2 separate regions of the Homo sapiens genome follow, and region 1 is linked to region 2. Evidence: fine-mapped expression QTL. A gene starts in region 2. The other region holds a variant in brackets. All regions are shown on one strand. Distances are between the middles of the regions. Region 1 overlaps GLIS1 (GLIS family zinc finger 1). Region 2 holds the start of GLIS1 (GLIS family zinc finger 1).

Region 1 (8,412 bases), 200 kb before region 2:
ATCCTTTCTCTGGGGCTCACCTGCGGGGAGTAGGGGGAGGAGCTGGTTGGGTGCCTGGAGAGGACTGTGGGCTCATTTCAGACCCTGTGATCCACCTGGCTGATTTTCATGGCCTTGGCTCAAGGCTGTTCAGCACATTGAGTAATTTCTGGTGCGAGGCTGTTCACTGGGACAGACTGGCTCCAGTCTGCGGTGAGTGCCAAGCTGCAGAGAGAACTCAGACATGGGTCCTGCCCTCTAGGTGTAGAGAGCCCATGTGGGAGATGCACACACGCACACCACCATAAAGCGACGTGGTTGAGATGTCACAGAGGGAGACACAGGGGCTGTGGCCACACAGAGGAGATGCCTGAGGCAGCCTGTGGGCCGCGAGCTGCTTCCACGGGCTTGATGACTGTAGCGAGCTTAGACAGACATGTAGCAGTGTGGAGACACAGGCAGGCAATTCCCCCAACACTGATGCATTCACCTCATTCTGTCTCTGGCCCTGCCCGAGCCCTGAACTGCAACCAACAGATCCAAAGAAGATAGTGGGGTGACGCACACTGAAGGCCAAGGAAGGGCAGGCACCAAAGCATGAAAAAGGCACAGATTCCCTGTGAAGGCCCCTGAGTGGTTGATGTGGGGTTCATTACGCTGGGGGTGGGCTGGGCTCTACTGGGCAAGGAGTCTGCAGGGAGCTCAAAGGCCAGATAGCGGGGACTCAAATGCTGGGCCAGTGAGCCTGGACTCCACCTTGGGGAAAGTGGAGACACTTCTCCTAAAGAAGGGAAAGGACAGGCTCAGATATGTGCCCTAGGAAGACCTCTCTGGCTGCTGGTGACAAGTGGGGACCGGGGGAGGAGACAGGAAGATGGCAATTGTAGCAGTTCCAGAGGAGGGTCACCAACGCCCCATCCAGGGCAGAGGTGGCAGATGGAGCACAGGCCAGGGCAGAGCTGCTCAGACAGATATGAGAGACACAAGAGACACGAGAGACAATGATGGTTCCGGGACAGCTCCCTCTGCGCCTGTCCCCTGGAAGCCCAGTCACAACTTGGGGCCGTGCTCTGCTGGGGCGGGTCCAAGGCGAGCCACCCACAGCTGGGTTTTAGAAGCTGTTCTGCTTCCTACTTCCAGATGTTGTGCCTTTTTCATGCATCCAAACCAGGAGGAAATCCTGTTTGGGCAGTAAATAGGCTGCAAGCCACCTCCCTTGCTCGCCTGCAATGGCCTTGTGCCAAGTTCACCCCAACGTGAGATGGGGGAGCCCGGGCTGGAGAGTGGGGCTTCCTCTCAGCATCCTTTGTTCCCCTCTGGCCCATGCAGGGCAGGGAGGTATCTACAGCAGAGGACAATAACTCCTCCAGGCTTCGTCATTTTCCTGACTGTGGGAGAGTGCTGGAAGGTGGACCATGATCGATACATCATCTTCTCCCCGAGGTCTGTGTATTCCTGCCTTGGCCAACCCTCTGCTCAGCACAGTTGCTCTGTCTCTATTCGGACTGTCCCCCTCCTGGGACTCCTTCCCTTCCAACTCTCTGACCATCTAATTCATACGTTTTTCAAACACAGGATCTGCAGCTTGGTGTTCATGGTCTTCCAACATGGACCCAACTGCCTCTCCCATGCAGACGCTCCACGCGTGATCTGCAGGAGTGAGACTGTGTCTGAACAGTCCTGAATTCTGTTAGGAATTTCCATGCCCTCAGGCCTTTACTTCAGTTGTTCCCTAGGCCTGGAATGCCTTTCCTTTATTTGCTCTTTTAGCAAACATCTACTCCTGTTGCTTAAGCACTCTCTCTCAGAAGCCTGCCTCAAACTTCCCCACCCCATCCTCTGTGACACCCATGAGCTTGTGGGGTAGGTTTTCCCTGCACAGCCATGGCCTTCTCCCCATGCCTCCAGGCTGAGAGTTTGAGAGTTCCTTGAGAGCAGGGCTGGCATCTCAATCATGGGGCAAAGGGTGGGACAGAAGCATGATATGGGGGTTGCTGGGCATGCAGTCCACGCACCCCTGTGAGTACACCCCCTTACCCCAGTGTGCAGAAAGGTACCCCGATAAGTGCGTGTGCCCTGATGCCTGTGCTGTGCCCATGTATGTTGGCCCAGCCTTGTTCTGCTCCCCGCCCCCTGGAACTTTCCAGAGCTGAGCCACAGGCTGGGGTATAATGAGCAGCTGGCTGGGATGCCCTGATGAGAGTGGCCCGTCCCTCCAGGTGGAAACAGAGGTACCAGCAGACGAAGGGGCACTGCCCCATCAGGACTGGTCTGGGATGAGGATGCTGCAGGCACCCCTGGCAGAGCCAGAGTCATGCCCCATCAGGACCAGCATCCCAGACACGCCAGGGGCCTTGAGGGCCTATGGGATCTGCCTGCAGCTGGCTGCCAAGGTCCCTGTGGTCCTTCCTAGTCAACAACTGCACAGATGGGGACAACAGAGGCACAGAAAGAGGGATGAGAGCGACCATCAGTTCAGCACCTATTGTGTGCTTGGTTCTGCTGGGCCTGGTGCTGTCACAAATGTGGCACCTTATCTTCTTCACTGCCCAGTAGGCAAGTATTACTGTCTCCACTGACAGATGGGGAGCTGATGCTCAGGGTGCAGCCAGCACAGGGGTTACACACACGGACCCTGGTGTAGACCCAGCCCAGGGGGAGCTCTCTGGGTCCCGGGAGCAGCCTCCAATGAGTGCGAGGTAGCCTTTGGGGTGGGTGTGGCTTGAAGGGCCCCCATCCATAGGCTGTGTAGGGCTGGGAGGGCTGCAGGGAGGGAACCCCCACCATTGGGTTGTGGGGGCACAGATGCTGCAGAATGGATGCATGGGGCTTGTGAGACCAGAAATGCAGCCATCTAGCACGTCCCTGGCTTCGACCTTGGTTTCTCAGGTGGAGGGAGGACTTACCTTCAGGTAATGGCACCACGACCCGAGGGCATCGTAATGATTCCATGGGGCCTGCACCACAGGGAGTGCCACTGGGGCGGGGCCTTCCTGACATCCCGGTCGCCTCAGGCTCTATGGTACATTTGTCCTGGACAGACACCTGCTTCCTGCTGCCAGTGTCCAAGGGTACAGGCTGGCAGAGCAGACCCTGGACCCCCACTGCAAGGGCTGAGTGCCTCTATGTGGGGGGTTCAGAGAGGGAGATTGTTCCCCCTGTGCCAGGGGCACTGAGCCTGAGCTATGCCATAGGCAGAACTGCCATCTCTCCTGAGAAAGAAGTGCCTGCAACACAAGGTAAGCCCTGTGGCCTGAAAGCCAGCTGTGCACCCCATCCCTCCACCCCCACCTGACCACCCACCCCATCCCTGCTACTGTGCACCCCCCATCCTTCCACTCACGCACTTCTGCGAGTCACTCACTCATCCTCTCCTCTTTGAGCACACAGGTTCTTATCCTCCTGCCTCACTCAGCTGCCCCTCTGTGTGCCTGGCAGTGTGCTCTGAGCTGAGACCCAAGGGCGTCAAAGACCCATAGCTCCAAACACACTGGAACTTGTTCAGAGCCCTAGGAAGGGGCTGACCCGGGGGCTTCTGGCTGGCAGAGGCTGGGGAGCTACAAAAGCCTTCACAGAGGAGCTCAGCCCTGACACCCAGGCAGGGGCTAGAAACACAGAGCCAGGAAAAGCATTCCAGGGAGAGGGCAAAGCATGAACAAAAGCAGGGAGGCTGGAAGAGGTGGGATATGTTCTGGAAACAGCTAAGGATCTATTGAGCAGAGAAGGAAGGGAAGCAGGGAGAGGAGAGGTGAAAGTAGAAATGGGAGTTTTGGGGGCTCCCTTCATTCAAACACATGGGGTAGTGGTTCCTTCTGCAGCAGGCAAATTTGGGGATTTTTGATTCTAAAGACTTCACAGAAGCCACTCCATGCAAGGACTGATGTGGCACAGGCTCTTCACTTGAGGGACTCTGGTGCGACTTCTGCTGGCTGGACCACCCCAGGTCACGCAGGGCTGATGCCCTGGGTCTGAGCTGTCACTGTTTCTTCCATCTACCTTTACTAAGCACCTACCGTGAGTCCAGGCACTGGGCTGGACCGGTGCAGGAGGGTGCGACATGGGCCCCTAAGCCTCAAGCACATATGGCCCTGAGTTGCTGGCACATGGCCAGCCCACCTTGGGGCCTCTCAGTCCCTCATGGTGGATGGCTGGGTGGGTATGGGGCCCCTGACCTCCCACCTTCTACCTGGATGCTTGAGCCAGGAACATGTTCCCTCCTCTCTGGGCCCTGCATCCAACTAGTCACCAGCCCAGGAAATGCCACCTTGTAATCACCTTCCAGGTCTGCCCCCTTCTCTTCTTATCCACCCACTGCCCTAATCCACACCCCAGCATCACTTACCTGGGTGACTGCACAGGTGCCATCCTGCCTCCCTCCTGCCTTTCCCAACCCATTTCCACGAGCTATCTGAAAAGAAGACTTAAGCCCATAGCTCTGTGTCCCTCCCTGCTCAAACCCTGCATGGTTCCCCAGTGCCTCAACATGTACAGATCCTCACCCTGGCATTCTGGCCAGCATGATCTGGTCCCTTGGTGCTGGCTTGGTGGCATCTGTACCCTCCAACCCCCGTACCCACACCAATGCATTCCAGCTTCAGATCAGCCTGGGTGCAAAGCTGGCCTCCACGCTTCCCGACCCGATGAATCAGGGTGAGCTCATTTCACTTGTCAGAGACCAGATACCTCAGATGTAAGAAGGGGCACACTGTGGGGGCTCTGTGAACCACTGTGTGCAGAGGCATCAGCGCTCTGACGCCATCTGTCCATGCAGAGAATGATAC[A/G]GGCACCTTCTGTCGAGGGTGGATTTGAGACACACTGGCTCAAATAACCAAAAACACAACAGACTGATCTGGCTAGAAGGAAGGGCTCCCACACCATGGGAACAGAGAAGGTGATACTGAGGGCAGGGGGTACCCAGGATGGGGAGAAGGAAAAGCAGGCATGTATAACAATCTTGAAAAATGTAAGAATAGGTGGTTAGGTTTTTCTTATTTACCCCAAAATACACAAACAGTAAAACATATTTGAAGATGAAGTTGGGGTGAATTCAGAATGACAGTAGTGACTGGGTGACACTTTCTCTGACACCTACCGTAGGCCAAGTGCTGTGTGTGTTTCATTTAATTCAGACAACGTTCCCCGCTGAGGAAGCTACTTCCCAGCCCACTCTGCAGAATAAGAAACTGAGGCTCAGAAGGGTGATGTCACTGGCTCCAGGTCACACAGCCAGTCAGTGACGGAGCAGGAATCTGACCTTGGGTCTGGCTGATGAGTCTATATGTGTCCCTAACCACTCTGGCCACTGCCTCAGGGACTCCTACCTAAAGCACCAAAAGACAAGTTCTCTCTCAGGAGCTAGTACTGTCATTTCAAACCAGGCGTCACAGGTTCCATTCCTGGGGCAAGGCCAGGCCTGGGCCCAGCCCCAGAGCTGACGCTGGGAAGGGAGGATGCCCACAGTGGATGCCTCCATGCAGAAAGGAAAACCAGGTGGCACAGTGGAGAAGAAAGTACCAGCTGATCCACAGAACAGCCTTGAAAGGCCCAATTCCCACATGTGGGGTGTGTTACAGCAGAAGATTAAAAAAACGGGGAAAATACCCCGGGAACCGTGAAGCCCCAGACCATCTGGAGTTTTATAGTGACAGGCAGGGGAAAATCAGAACCTAATTGAAAAATGTCCACTGCAATCCATTACTGCTGCGTGCCGCTCACAGAGCAGAGGGCAGGAGATGAAAGACAGAGGGGAGCCATCCCAGGAGCCAGGCAGGGGGTGGCATCCTCGCCTCTGGGCCAAGCCCAGGGACCCCTCAAGCTCTGGCTTGGGGAGGGGGAGGGCTGAAGCCCAAGATCCGCTGGGGGCTGGCTCAGACGTTCAAGTTGCAGGGTGGGTCCACCTTCCTCAGCAAGCCACACTCAGAGCCTTTTATGCATCTGTGGACGGGCTAAGAGCATGCAGGGGAGCCCCAGCACAGTGCCTGGCGTGCCGCTGGCACTAGGTGATGGCTCTTCTCTCCCTCTGGCTCCTGGGGAAGAACCAAGGGCCCTGTTTCACATGTGAGTTGGTGACACCATGCCGCAAACCAAAGTGCTGCAAATCAAGTCACGCAAACAGAGGTTTGTGCTGGGGATCCACCACCGGGAGCCTGAACCTGGGCTAGTCACGCCTCATTTCTGTCCTCGTTTTTCTCTTCTCTAAAATGGGGCCACCACAAACGGCTGGTAGAAGTAAATAAAAGAATATGCCCAGTGTAGGAACTGGCACATAGCTGGTGCCTAATGAATGTCAAGTTTCCTGCCTGCGGCTGGCATGGCCCAAAAAGGAGGCAGGGTTCAGTTTCTCATGCTCTAACTAAGAATCTGGACACAGAGTGAAGAGGAGGTTTGGGGGAACAGGGCATGGCACGGGGGCAGGGGAGGAAATGCCTTCAGTTTTAGCATTTGCCAGTGACTTGCTTCTAAATAAACACATTTCTGGTTTAAGGGTAAAATATATTGGGTTACAAAAGTCTGGCAGGCCATTCAGGGATCAACTTCTCATTTTTGTACGAACTTTTAAGTTACTTTACAACAATGATGTGGATGGGAGAAATGCAATGCCAGCTCCTTCTCCAACATGTCAAATAATCCTGCGTTTGGCCAGCTTTAAAGGCCAGCAAGCTGGGCACTGAGGGCCGCTCCTCGCTCCTGCACTCTGGGAGGGGCCGCTGGCTGGCCTGAGGTTACTGTCCTGTGCTCCCCCGTGGGGCTCCTTGAGGGTCTCCTCAGAGTTTGGGGCTTCGCCAGTCCTCTGTGGGGAGGTTGAGGCAAGAATGGAACGGACAGACGGGAGGAGGGTCCTGGGGGTGAGGCTGGAGGGCACTGACCCGGGCTCTTTGATTTGGACCGTGAGGCTCTCGAGGGTCTGGTGTTTGGGGATGCAGTGCCACCTGCATACATGAATGGAAAGTGGGGCATGTGCGGGGACTGAGCAGAACAGCAGCTATCACATTGACCATGTGCCTAGGACTGGGCCAAGCTCTCCCTAAACACCATCTCACTAATCCTGCAACCCCTATTGTTACAGAGGTGGAAACTGAGTTTAGGTGAAGTGCCAGAGTCCCAGCGCTCACTCATGGGATGGAGCCTGGGTTCACCTCCAGTGCCGAGGTCTGTGCCCTGGGCACACTCTGGTCCCAGGTAGCCATGATCGAGCACTGCCATGAGAGGCAAGACCATCTGCTCACTGGGCCTTCATAAGCAGCTGGCAGGCCAGGGAGGGCTGGGGGCACACAGTGAGGCAAGGGAGAACAGGACAGAGGGACCATACACCTCCTCTGGGAGCCCATGCGGGTGGGCCTGTCCTTGGGAGGAGGATCTCAAGGCTGAGGGGGTGGGGGCTGCAGACACCCTGACCCTTCCTCACCAGGAACACACTGACAGCTCTGGGCTGGGCTCTTCTCTGGCAAAAGTTCCTGTCTGGGCAAGAAATGGGTTCCTGTCCCCAGCAGTGCAGTTGAGGCATCTCCTGGAAAGGTGGCCGGCCAGCAAGGATCAAGAGAGTCACCCTTCCAGGGCATGTGGAACCCCCGAAAGTAGGAGGTGCAGGAGGGGCTGAGTCAGCTTCTCTTGGGCCCAAGTGGACAGGTGGGATCCAGGGGCTCTCCCAGTGCAGAGCTGTGGCTAGACATCGTCTGGAATGAGGAAAGAGGCTCTGCCAGGGGCCAGGGCTCCGCAGAGAGCACACAGCATAGAATGGCTGACACATGTACACCAAGCCACCAGCCACAGGCCCAGAAACGTGGACACTCACACACTCTGATGTGAACACCTCTCCCTCCAACCAAGCCACACGTCGGAGACAGCCCCAACACACACCAACACACACACATGGATTCACACACACACACACACCAAGACCCAGAAACTCCCTCACACACACACACACACACTACACCTAAACACACACACCCCAATTCACCCACACATACCATATCCCCACATATATACCACATAACACACCCACACATATCATACCACACACACACTCCACAGCACATGAATGCACACCCCACACACACACCATACCACACATCACAGCACACCCCCAATACATACACATCATACCTCCCACACACACGTACCACACCCCCAACATACACACACCACACCACACACACACATACCACACGGTATACACCCCCCCACACACACTACACATCATACACATAAACTGTGTTTACACCCCATGACTCATATCACAAAAACACACAGGCCAGGACACACATGTTCACACATATACCCAAAGACGTCCAAGCCCCAGACCTGCCACATTCACAAACACACTAACCCCCACCCACCAGCCACACCGACACACTGCCCCACGCATAGCACAGCACACGTGGAAACTGGCCACCTGGAACATGGATGTGCGTGTGGGGTTCACTGAGGGGC
Region 2 (9,257 bases):
AATCGATTCCCCCAAGTGCCACAGATCATAGATGGTGGGGTCTCACAATTCCCAGCACAGTCAATACATATTTTTCAATTGGTATTTCTGTCTGTTTCCAATAAGCCTGAGAACTTGGAGCTAGACACCAAATATTCAAAGGGTTACATGGTCTGGGACTATTTCGGTGGGAGTAGGGGCAGTAAGAAGGTGCCGTTTCCTCGCAGCATTTTTAAGGACGCTGAAGAACTGGGGGAAAGCTGGGTTTGTCTCGGGCCACTTGGTGACTGCACTGTGAGGAAAAGCTTGCCTATAGCAACACAGAGGCCAGCAGGGAAACCTCTCCAAGCCCAGGACCCTGAGCCTTCCCTTTCTCCCTAGGCCAGGTTAGGCCAGAGCTGTGGCTTCCCTAACCACTGCCCTACACATACCAAACACTTTCCCACCTTCAGGCCTCAGTTTCCTCACCCTTCAAATGAGTGGGATACATCCCACCACAACAGCCTCACTGGGAGGCTATGAAGAAAAGTTGTGAAACCTCTTGGAAAAAAGCTTCACCAGAGAGACCAGCTTAAGGTACAAAGAAAGAGGCTCTTCCTCCCATCCCTTTATTCTCCTCTGCCCTTTCCAAATGGAATCCTGACTTAAAGATCTTTTATTTTGGACATGTTTGGGGGCGTGCGTAAAAATAACTGGGGTTAGGGGGAATGGAAGTAGGAAGATCGTACACAAAGCCCCCAGGTGAAAGGTCTCACCATAGCGTGGAACAAAGATTATGTTCGGGAGAGCTGTTTGCTAGGTCTGCAGAGAACTCGATCTTCAGAGGACAGCCATGATTTTTTTAAACACAGAACGTTGCAGGAGGGTATCTATTTAAGGGAGGATTGTGTATGGAGCGGGGCAAGCCAGGGAGCTCCCGGCAGCAAACATTACTCATGTCTCGCTGCGCAGCGCTCCTCTCTGGTAAAAGAGACCTCATATGTGTGTATTCCAGCAATAACACTCAGCAGGCATTTCCCGCCCCTCCCCACTGTATCTGTCCTTCTAAAATATTATCTCTATCCCTTGAAAAAGAGGCTGGCATCTAAAACAAGGAGATGAGAAGTAGTTCTCTCTTACAAAGTCAAGTGTTTTCTTCAAAAAAGAAAAAAACTACTTATGTTTATTTCATTTTACTAATCCCTGAACCAGGGAGTTGGGTGTTTTTGATCCACAAGGAGCTCTCAACTCTAAAAGTAGGCTGCCTACCCCTTCCGAGTTGTGAGGCTGATGCTAGGAAGTGATGCCTATAACCGTAAAACCCAAACTGTTTTTGTCTTCCTTGAGAATCATCTGGAATGAGAACCAAGAGGTTCCAAATGCAGATATAGTCAAACCCCAAAGCCTTGGTTTCCCCTAAGGGAAAAAAAAAGGGGGGAGGACGAGGACACAGCATCTTAACAATTTCTCCAATTCCTGGTTAATTATCTGTCAGCACGAAACTCATAAATAATGACTCAATAATAATTAACTGTGATGAGAAGAGCATGTTCCTGAAAATCCCAGCACCATCTCCGACTTTGAGCCCATAAGCCATACTGGGACCCCCACCTTCCCGTGGCCAGCTTCACTGGGGGACGAAGGGACTTGCCAAGGAGCTTGTGACCCAAGACTAGGCTGCCGAAGCACCAAGTACAGAAAAGCCATGTTTAAGTTAGGACGTGACTAGGCTGGATTGCTGATGCAGAAAATTTTCCATCAGGAATCCAGAAATCATCTGGTTTAATTAATTCCTCACTTGACAGATGGGGAAACTGAGGTCCCAAAAGGAGAGGGGTCTTGCTAAAGGCCTCTGGGTTTTGTCAGCTGAGGAGATTGAAATACTTCAAACTATGCCTTGAGCTGCTCAGAAACAGATACCAATATATGCGTTGCTATTCGCCCTCATGTATAATAAAATTTTGACAAGTTTCTATGCAAGCTTTATCAGAAACACACAGAAGCAAAATTATGTAAGCTGAGAGCTTTCTATAAACACATTTCCCCAAACGGGGCTAATTGAATTTAAATTAGATGCTTCGCAAAGCAGGCATACTTTCACACTGACAAGCTAGTCCCAAACAATAAGAGAGAAACTGAGGAACTCCGAAGAAAGTTCCACCAAGCTCTCCCGAGCACGCGGTGGCGACGCCGGGCAGCCCGAATCTCCACAGGAGCCGCCAGGCACGTTGGCAGGGCCGAACTCACCCTTCCCGGCGGCGGCGGCCTTGGATGGACCGTAGTCTCGGGGACTGCGGGGCCGGAGGAGGTCGTGGGCGCGCGGTGGCGGCGCAGGCGGCCGGGCTAGCAGGTCCCGCGGGCCCCTGTCCCCGCAGCCGCCGCCACTCACGGTGACCCTGAAGGCCATGTGCGCGCCGAGGCTGGCGGGGCCGCGGTCGGGGCCGGGCGCACCAGGGGCCTCCTTAGGCCTCTTGTCCGAGTGTGCCTCAGCCACCTCGCAATGCATGGCGCCGGGGCGGGGCGCACGGCTGGGGGTCGCGCCGGGCTCCTGGGGAGGGGAGACAGCACAGCCAGTTAGAATGCGGAAAGCGGCCCCCGTATTGTCCCGGGGCCGAGTTTGAGCAGGTCACTGCCCCTTCGGTGGATTGCGCGTCTTTAACATAGGTTAGCACCACGACACCTAGCCCAATCAGAGGTCAAACCCACCTGATTCCACGCAAAAGCCCCCTCGCTCAGGAGCGGTTCGCCCTTCCCTGGTGTGGGGAGGACCCCAGGCCCCCGCGCCGCGGCGCATTACCGCGAAGTCCCACCCAAATCCTCCTCCACCGAAACCAGCCTCCTTTGCACGAATGGTGAAACTGAGGCCTGGAGCGGGTAAGGCGCCTGTTCCGCGTCCCCCAGTGGAACACGGAGCCGGCGGCAACGAGGATTCCCAGAGCAGGGCTCGGGCGAAGCCCCGGAGACGGCTCCGGGTAGGTCACGGGCTGCGCGCTTCGTCGACTCTCCGGGGCCGAGCTGCGCGCAGAAGCTGGGGACCCGAACCCAAAGGCCCGAGGGAAACCCCCAGAGACTCACCCGCGACCACCCGAACCTGGAAAACAGGAGTCCCAAGCTGGGCGCTGAATCCTGCGACGCGAACCCATCACGCGCAGCCGGGACACCCACATTCCTATGCGCAGCGGAGGAATCGAGCCCGTCGCGCGCGCAAACCGGCACAGTGGGCAATGCCCACGCGGCCGCCGCCACACACCCGCACACCCGCCGAGGCACGCCCGGGGACGGACACGCCACCCACACTGCCGCTGGTCAGACGCTCAGCAGCGCACAACCACACAGTCCCACGCTCTCGCCACACGCGCGTGCGATGGGGGCCGCGACAGAGCCTCCCTCAGCCCTTCCATCAGGGGCCCCCAAACTCTCCGTTCCCCTCCGCGCTCCCTGCGCCATCCCCAAGCTGCCGGGGTTCGAGCGTCGCCGGGACGCCAGCCTCGGATCTCGGGCCCCGCACACGCCCCTCCCTCGGCCGCGGGCCGCGCCCCCTCTCACCTCGCAGCGGCAGCTGCAGATCGCTGGGCGCCCGGCTCGGCGCGCCTCCACTGGCGCAGCAGCCCCCGCAGCCGCCGCAGCCGCCGCCGCCGCCGCCGCGTCCTGCGGGGCGGTTCCCCGGGGGACGGGGGCGGGCCCGCGTCTGCCCAACAGCCGCTCCAGCCACTGGCTGGCCGCGGCCGCCCGGCTCAGGCCAATCGCGGCGCGAGGGCGGGGCATCCCCCCCTGGGGGTCTGGGCGGGGCCCGACGCGGGGCTGAGCAGAGGGTTTGACAGGCGGCGGCCGGCTGGATCCCCGCGCTGCCCGCTGTTCTCAGACGGCCGAGCCGGGCAGGACGGCGGGGCGGCGCCGCGGCGAGAGAGGCTGGGCTCGGGGGTCGGCGGAGTGCGCTGGGCGTGAGGAGTGCCGGGCTGAACCCGGCTCCCTGCCCGCCTCTCCACTAGCCCCGGGCAGGATCCTCCCTTCTCCCGGTCGGTTTTCCCCTCCGTCAGATGGGAACGACGCTGTCTGCTAACGCGAAGCGGACAGATGCGAAAGTGCTTGAAAAGTTTTCTTGCAGAATCCAACCCTCTCACTGGAGAATTTGCAGAGATTTCACAGCTAGTGGGCAGCAAATTTGGGACCCAAACCCAGGCCTCTCAGCCCACTTTCTTACGTTTGTTTTTGTGTTTTCCGCCGGAAAGAGTCCAGGGTAAAAGGTCTCAAACTCTGAAGTTAAAGATAAAAAAATGGTGCCTGATCCCAACTAGGAAATATTCCAATTGAGTCTTGGGGAATAGGCCCCCAGCACTTAGGCTTTTAGCGAGCTCCCAGGAGATCCTTACAGATCTGGGGATTGAGACCCACTCTAGGGGTCTACTCTGTTGTCCTGCCTTCTGGGATTCCCCCACAGACAGCACGCAGTGTCTCAGGGGGCCCTGCCCAACGTGTAGGAAGAGCACGGGACAAAGAACAGTAAGGCTTCACAGAGCCTGCAGGCAATGGCTCAGTTCCCCGCTCTGAGCCTGAGTCCTCCCGTGTAAAATGGCAGTGTTTGCCTAGGCCTGGTCTACCTGCCATGCCTACCGAAGGATCCAGCCAAGCCCTGAAATGGTTTCTGCATTTCACCTAGGCGCCTCCTGTGCACTGTTTGATGGTGGTCTGGGCTGGCTCCAAGGGGCCTGACTGGTTTCGAACTCCTTTGAAGTCTGGTCTCTTTGACCTTGGTCTCAAACTGGAAAATGTATATGGAGCCCTTCTGGACTACACAACATGTCAAGTTCATAGCACAGGACTCTGCACAGAACAACCGACCCCAAGCAGCATCCTCAGAATCCTGGAAAACCAGGATTTTAGAATTTCAAAATCATAAAATTGGATTTCCTATAATTTGTTTAAAATAGTATCTAACAATTAGAGTAATAATAGTAAGAAAGACTTTGAGGTTTTAGTTAGACCCACCCTCCATTCAGAGGAGAAAGGACGTGACTGGCCTGTGTCAATGTGGTGGAGGGTGGCAGAGCCCCGGGATCCAGGCTTCCTGACTCCTGGCAATGCTGTTCCTTCAGTACCAACCACTCTGCTGCTCACAGGGAGAGGGTGTAAATCAACCATGCCCATAACACACAGGCCAAGGGTTGCGCCTCACTCAGTGCCTGCACCCCCCACCACCACATACTCTTGTGGAGTCACAGCTGGTTCTGCTGCCAACAAGCCATGTGGCTCTAGACGAATGGTAACCTCACTCTGGACCTCAGCTTCCCCCCTCCAAAGGCATGAAGTTGGAAGATCTCTGGCCTTTCTAGTTCTGCTCTTCTCTTCAGTAAGGCCAGGATCCAAGTCCTCTGCCCTCCCTCCACCCCCCACAATGCCCCCCCCCGCCGCCCCGCTGCAAAACACACACACACACAACAAGCACTGCGCTGCACATTTAGTCGGGACTCTGAAAACGTTTGCTGAATGAGTCATTTAACCAACTGGACCTGAAAGCAAAGGCCCTCCAAATTTCCAGATGAAGAAACAGCTCTTTCCATTATTCTTTTGAGCACTTACCCTGGGCCAGCCCCTATACCTGAGCTAGGGACACAGAAACACAGAACCCGCCCCCTCCCCTTCCCCTCAGTGAGCTCACAGGTCCACCTGACCAAAATAGGTGGGTTTGTGAAGGCTGGCAAAGTGATGAGAAGTTTAATCTGCTCAATAAAACAGACCTCTTAAACACTGTAAATGGCAGAACCCCTTTGGAGATACTCAGAATCTAGTAGGTATATGCTTTTTTTTTTTTCCACAAAGGAAACACAAGAAACTGTTAACAGTGGTTAAGGGAATGGAGGACTGAGGGAAGGCCTGCACTTTTCATTTTTATACTTGTCTGAACTGATTTGTGTTTTCTAAGTATATATTATCCTCCCTCTCTCTCTCTTTTTTTTTTTTTTTTGTTTTCTTTTTCTTTTTTGAGACAGAGTCTCACTCCTCTGTCTGCCCAGGCTGGAGTCCAGTGGCACAATCCCAGCTCACGGCAACCTCTGCCTCCCAGACTCAAGTGATTCTTCTGCCTTAGCCTCCAGAGCAGCTGGGACTACAGGCGCGCACCACCATGCCTGACTAATTTTCGTATTTTTAGTAGACAAGGTTTCACCATATTGGCCAGGCTGGTCTCGAACTCCTGACCTTGTGATCCGCCCACCTTGGCCTCCCAAAGTGCTGGGATTACAGGCATGAACCACTGTGCCCGGCCCCTCCCTGTCTTTCAATAGGGGTTATTTGAGCAGTGGGATTATGTGCTGCATTTTTTTCCTTTATATTTTTGGTATTAAAATAAAACTCCTTAATATTTTAATTGTCAAAAACAAAATAAAGTGAAACACAGTAACCTGCTTCTCACTTTAGCAGGCTAGACAGTAATGTCTGCTTTTTACACTAACCCGTGTTACAACTCACACTCTCTTCTGCCCTCCCACAGTCTGTCTACTGGATATCTCTATCAGGATCCATCTGCAAAATCGAACATCATTTTTTCATCTCTGACGTTGCTCCTCACTCCTATGTCCCTAACTGGGTGAATGGCCCTATGGCCAACTCCCCCAGTTCAGAAATCTGAGTCATCCTCAGCCCCTCCTCTCCCATACTCCTATATCTGACTTGTCATAAATTTAACTAACAATCCTCCTCCTCTCCATCCTCACTACTACATTTCTTCCAAGTTCTTTTTGCCTCCATCCTCATCCTTCTCCTAATTAGTGATTTTCCACACTGGTCTCCTTATCAGTCTCTAAAGTATAGATCTGGCCGGGCACAGTGGCTCCCACTTGTAATCACAGTACTTTGGGAGGCCAAGACAGGAGGATCACTTGAGGCCAGGAATTGGAGACCAGACTGGGCAGCATAGCAAGACCTTGTCTCTACAAAAAATAAAATAAAAAATAGTCAGGCATGGTGGCCTGCACCTATACTATCAGCTAATCAAGAAGCTGAGGTGGAGGATCCCTTGAGTCTAGGAGTTTGAGACTGCAGTGAGCTATGATCATACCACCATACTCCAGGCTAAGTGACAGAGAGAGACCCTGTCTCTAAATAAATAAGTAAATAAATAAATAAATAAAAATATAGATCTGACCATGGCACTTCCCTGTTTAAATCTCATAGCTCCCAATGGCCATCTAAATAAAATCAAACCATTTTCTTACCCTGCTCCCACCCCTACCCTATGTTCCAAGCACCTTGGAATAGTTTTCATCTCCTAGAATCCGGAACATATATTCATGCCTTCATAGCTCTGTATATGATTTCTCCTATGCTAATATTTTCTCCCCTTATTCACCTTGCCTACTTCTTCCTATGAATCATTTCATACCCAGCCCAAGTGTCACCTTCCCACAAGCCTTCCCTGAATCCTCGAGGGGGCTATAGCTATTTTCTCCCTGCACACTTTCACAATCCTCTGCTTTATTCTATCTGAGAACTTATTACAGTTTTGTAACTGCCTGTGTAACAGCCTGTCTCCCCCCTCTAGAATGAGACCTCTGTGAGGTCAGGGGCAGCTTTTTGCCTTTCTATCTTCAGAACCTAGAAGAGATTCCTGCACAAAGTAGGTAAATATTTACTGAATGCTGATTGAATTATTAAAGACTCACCACTAATTCATTTGCTTGCCTACATTTCTAGCTAAGAGCTTCCCCACCCTATCAAGACGTCTCTCCTCACTGTCTTTGTTCAGGGGTGTAAGCATTCACTCAGCAAATGGTTGAGGTAAAAGTAGACATTTCTGTGTCTAAGGTGTCCTGTGTCCAGGAGATAGGAGGAAGGAGAAGGAAGAGAGGTGATCGATGTTACACTGCTTACCCTGCCTCTGTGTCTTGCAGCAAGGGAAGAATTAACATGGGGAACCTACCATGTACCATGGCTGACACTCTCCATATGTGACCTCACTTAATCCTGACAACTCTGGATAAAGAGGTTATCATCCCTATTTTACAGGTGAGAAGATAAAAGTTCAAAATTAAGTGACCTCCCAAAGTTCCCACAGTCAAGAGCGTCTCTGCCTCCCATACATCTATGGCCAACTGATTTTCAATAAGAGTGCCAAGACCACTCACTGAGGAAAGAATTGTCTCTTCAACAAATGGTATTGGGACAACTGGATATCCACCTGCCAAAGAATGAAGTTGGATCCCATCTCACATCATATTCAAAAAGTAATTCACAATGGACCAATGACCTAAATGTAAGAGCTAAAACCATGAAATGCTTAGAAGAAAACACAGAGGTACACACCTTTTTAAAAAATAATTTTTAGGAGTAAATCTTCTTGATCTTGGATTTGGCAGTGGATTTTTTTTTTTTTTTTTTTTGACAGAGTCTCACTCTGCTACAACACAATGGTGCAATCTGGGCTCACTGCAGTCTCAACCTCCTGAGTTCAAGGGATCCTCCCACCTCAGCCTCTCAAGTAGGTGGGACCACACACTCTCAAGTAGGTGGGACAACAGGTGTGTGCAACCATGCTCAGCTAAGTTTTTAAATTTTTTGTAGAGACAAAGTCTCACTATATTGCCCAGGCTGGTCATATATCCTGGGCTCAAGTGATCTTCCCATCTTGGCCTCTCAAAGTGCTGGGATTACAGTCATGAGCCACCACACCAGTCTGGATCTTTGATACAATACCAAAAACATGAGCAATAAAATAAAAAATAAATTAGGCTTCATCAAAATTTAAAACTTTTGTACACCAAAGAACATTATCAAAATACTGAAGAGACAACCTACAGAACGGGAGAAAATATAGGCAAATCATATATCTGATAAGGGTCTAGCCTCCAGAATATACAAAGAACTCACACGACTCAAAAACAAAAACACAACCCAACGAAAAAATAGGCACAGGAGTTGAATAGACATTTCTTCAAAGAAGATATACAAGTGGCCAAGCACATGAAAAGATGCTCAACATTATTAGCCATTAGGAAAATGCAAATCATAACCAGAATGAGCTACTAGAGAAGCTGAGGTAGGAAGATTGCTTGAGGCCAGGAGTTCGAGACTGCAGTGCTGATGATCACGTCTGTGAATAGCCACTGCACTCTAGCCTGGGCAACATAGTGAGACCCTATCTCCAAAAATTTTTTTAAATTTTTTAAATAAATAAAAACAAAACACAATAAAATATCACTTCACATCCAATAGGATGATATAACTGAATAAAAGGAATGTCTCAAGTTGAATGATGAGGAATCATAAAAAAAAATGAGTGTTGGTGAGGATGTGGAGAAATAGGA

What was found.
Region 1: its variant is fine-mapped to the expression of GLIS1 in cerebellum (GTEx, PIP above 0.99).

The regions. Positions count from the first base shown.
Region 1 is chr1:53,531,390-53,539,801 of GRCh38, forward strand. All of the region lies in intron 4 of GLIS1 (GLIS family zinc finger 1), which reads right to left. Among named protein-coding and RNA genes, the nearest start is that of DMRTB1, 76 kb to the left of the region's middle. RefSeq lists an enhancer at 8,005-8,412. The variant A/G (reference allele first, on the strand shown) is at 4,761.
Region 2 is chr1:53,735,601-53,744,857 of GRCh38, forward strand. GLIS1 (GLIS family zinc finger 1) reads right to left here and starts at 3,564. Exons shown (of 11, transcript NM_001367484.1): 1 at 3,505-3,564; 2 at 2,206-2,506. The coding sequence starts at 2,464. RefSeq lists an enhancer at 2,980-3,698 and silencers at 3,384-3,553, 3,564-3,913.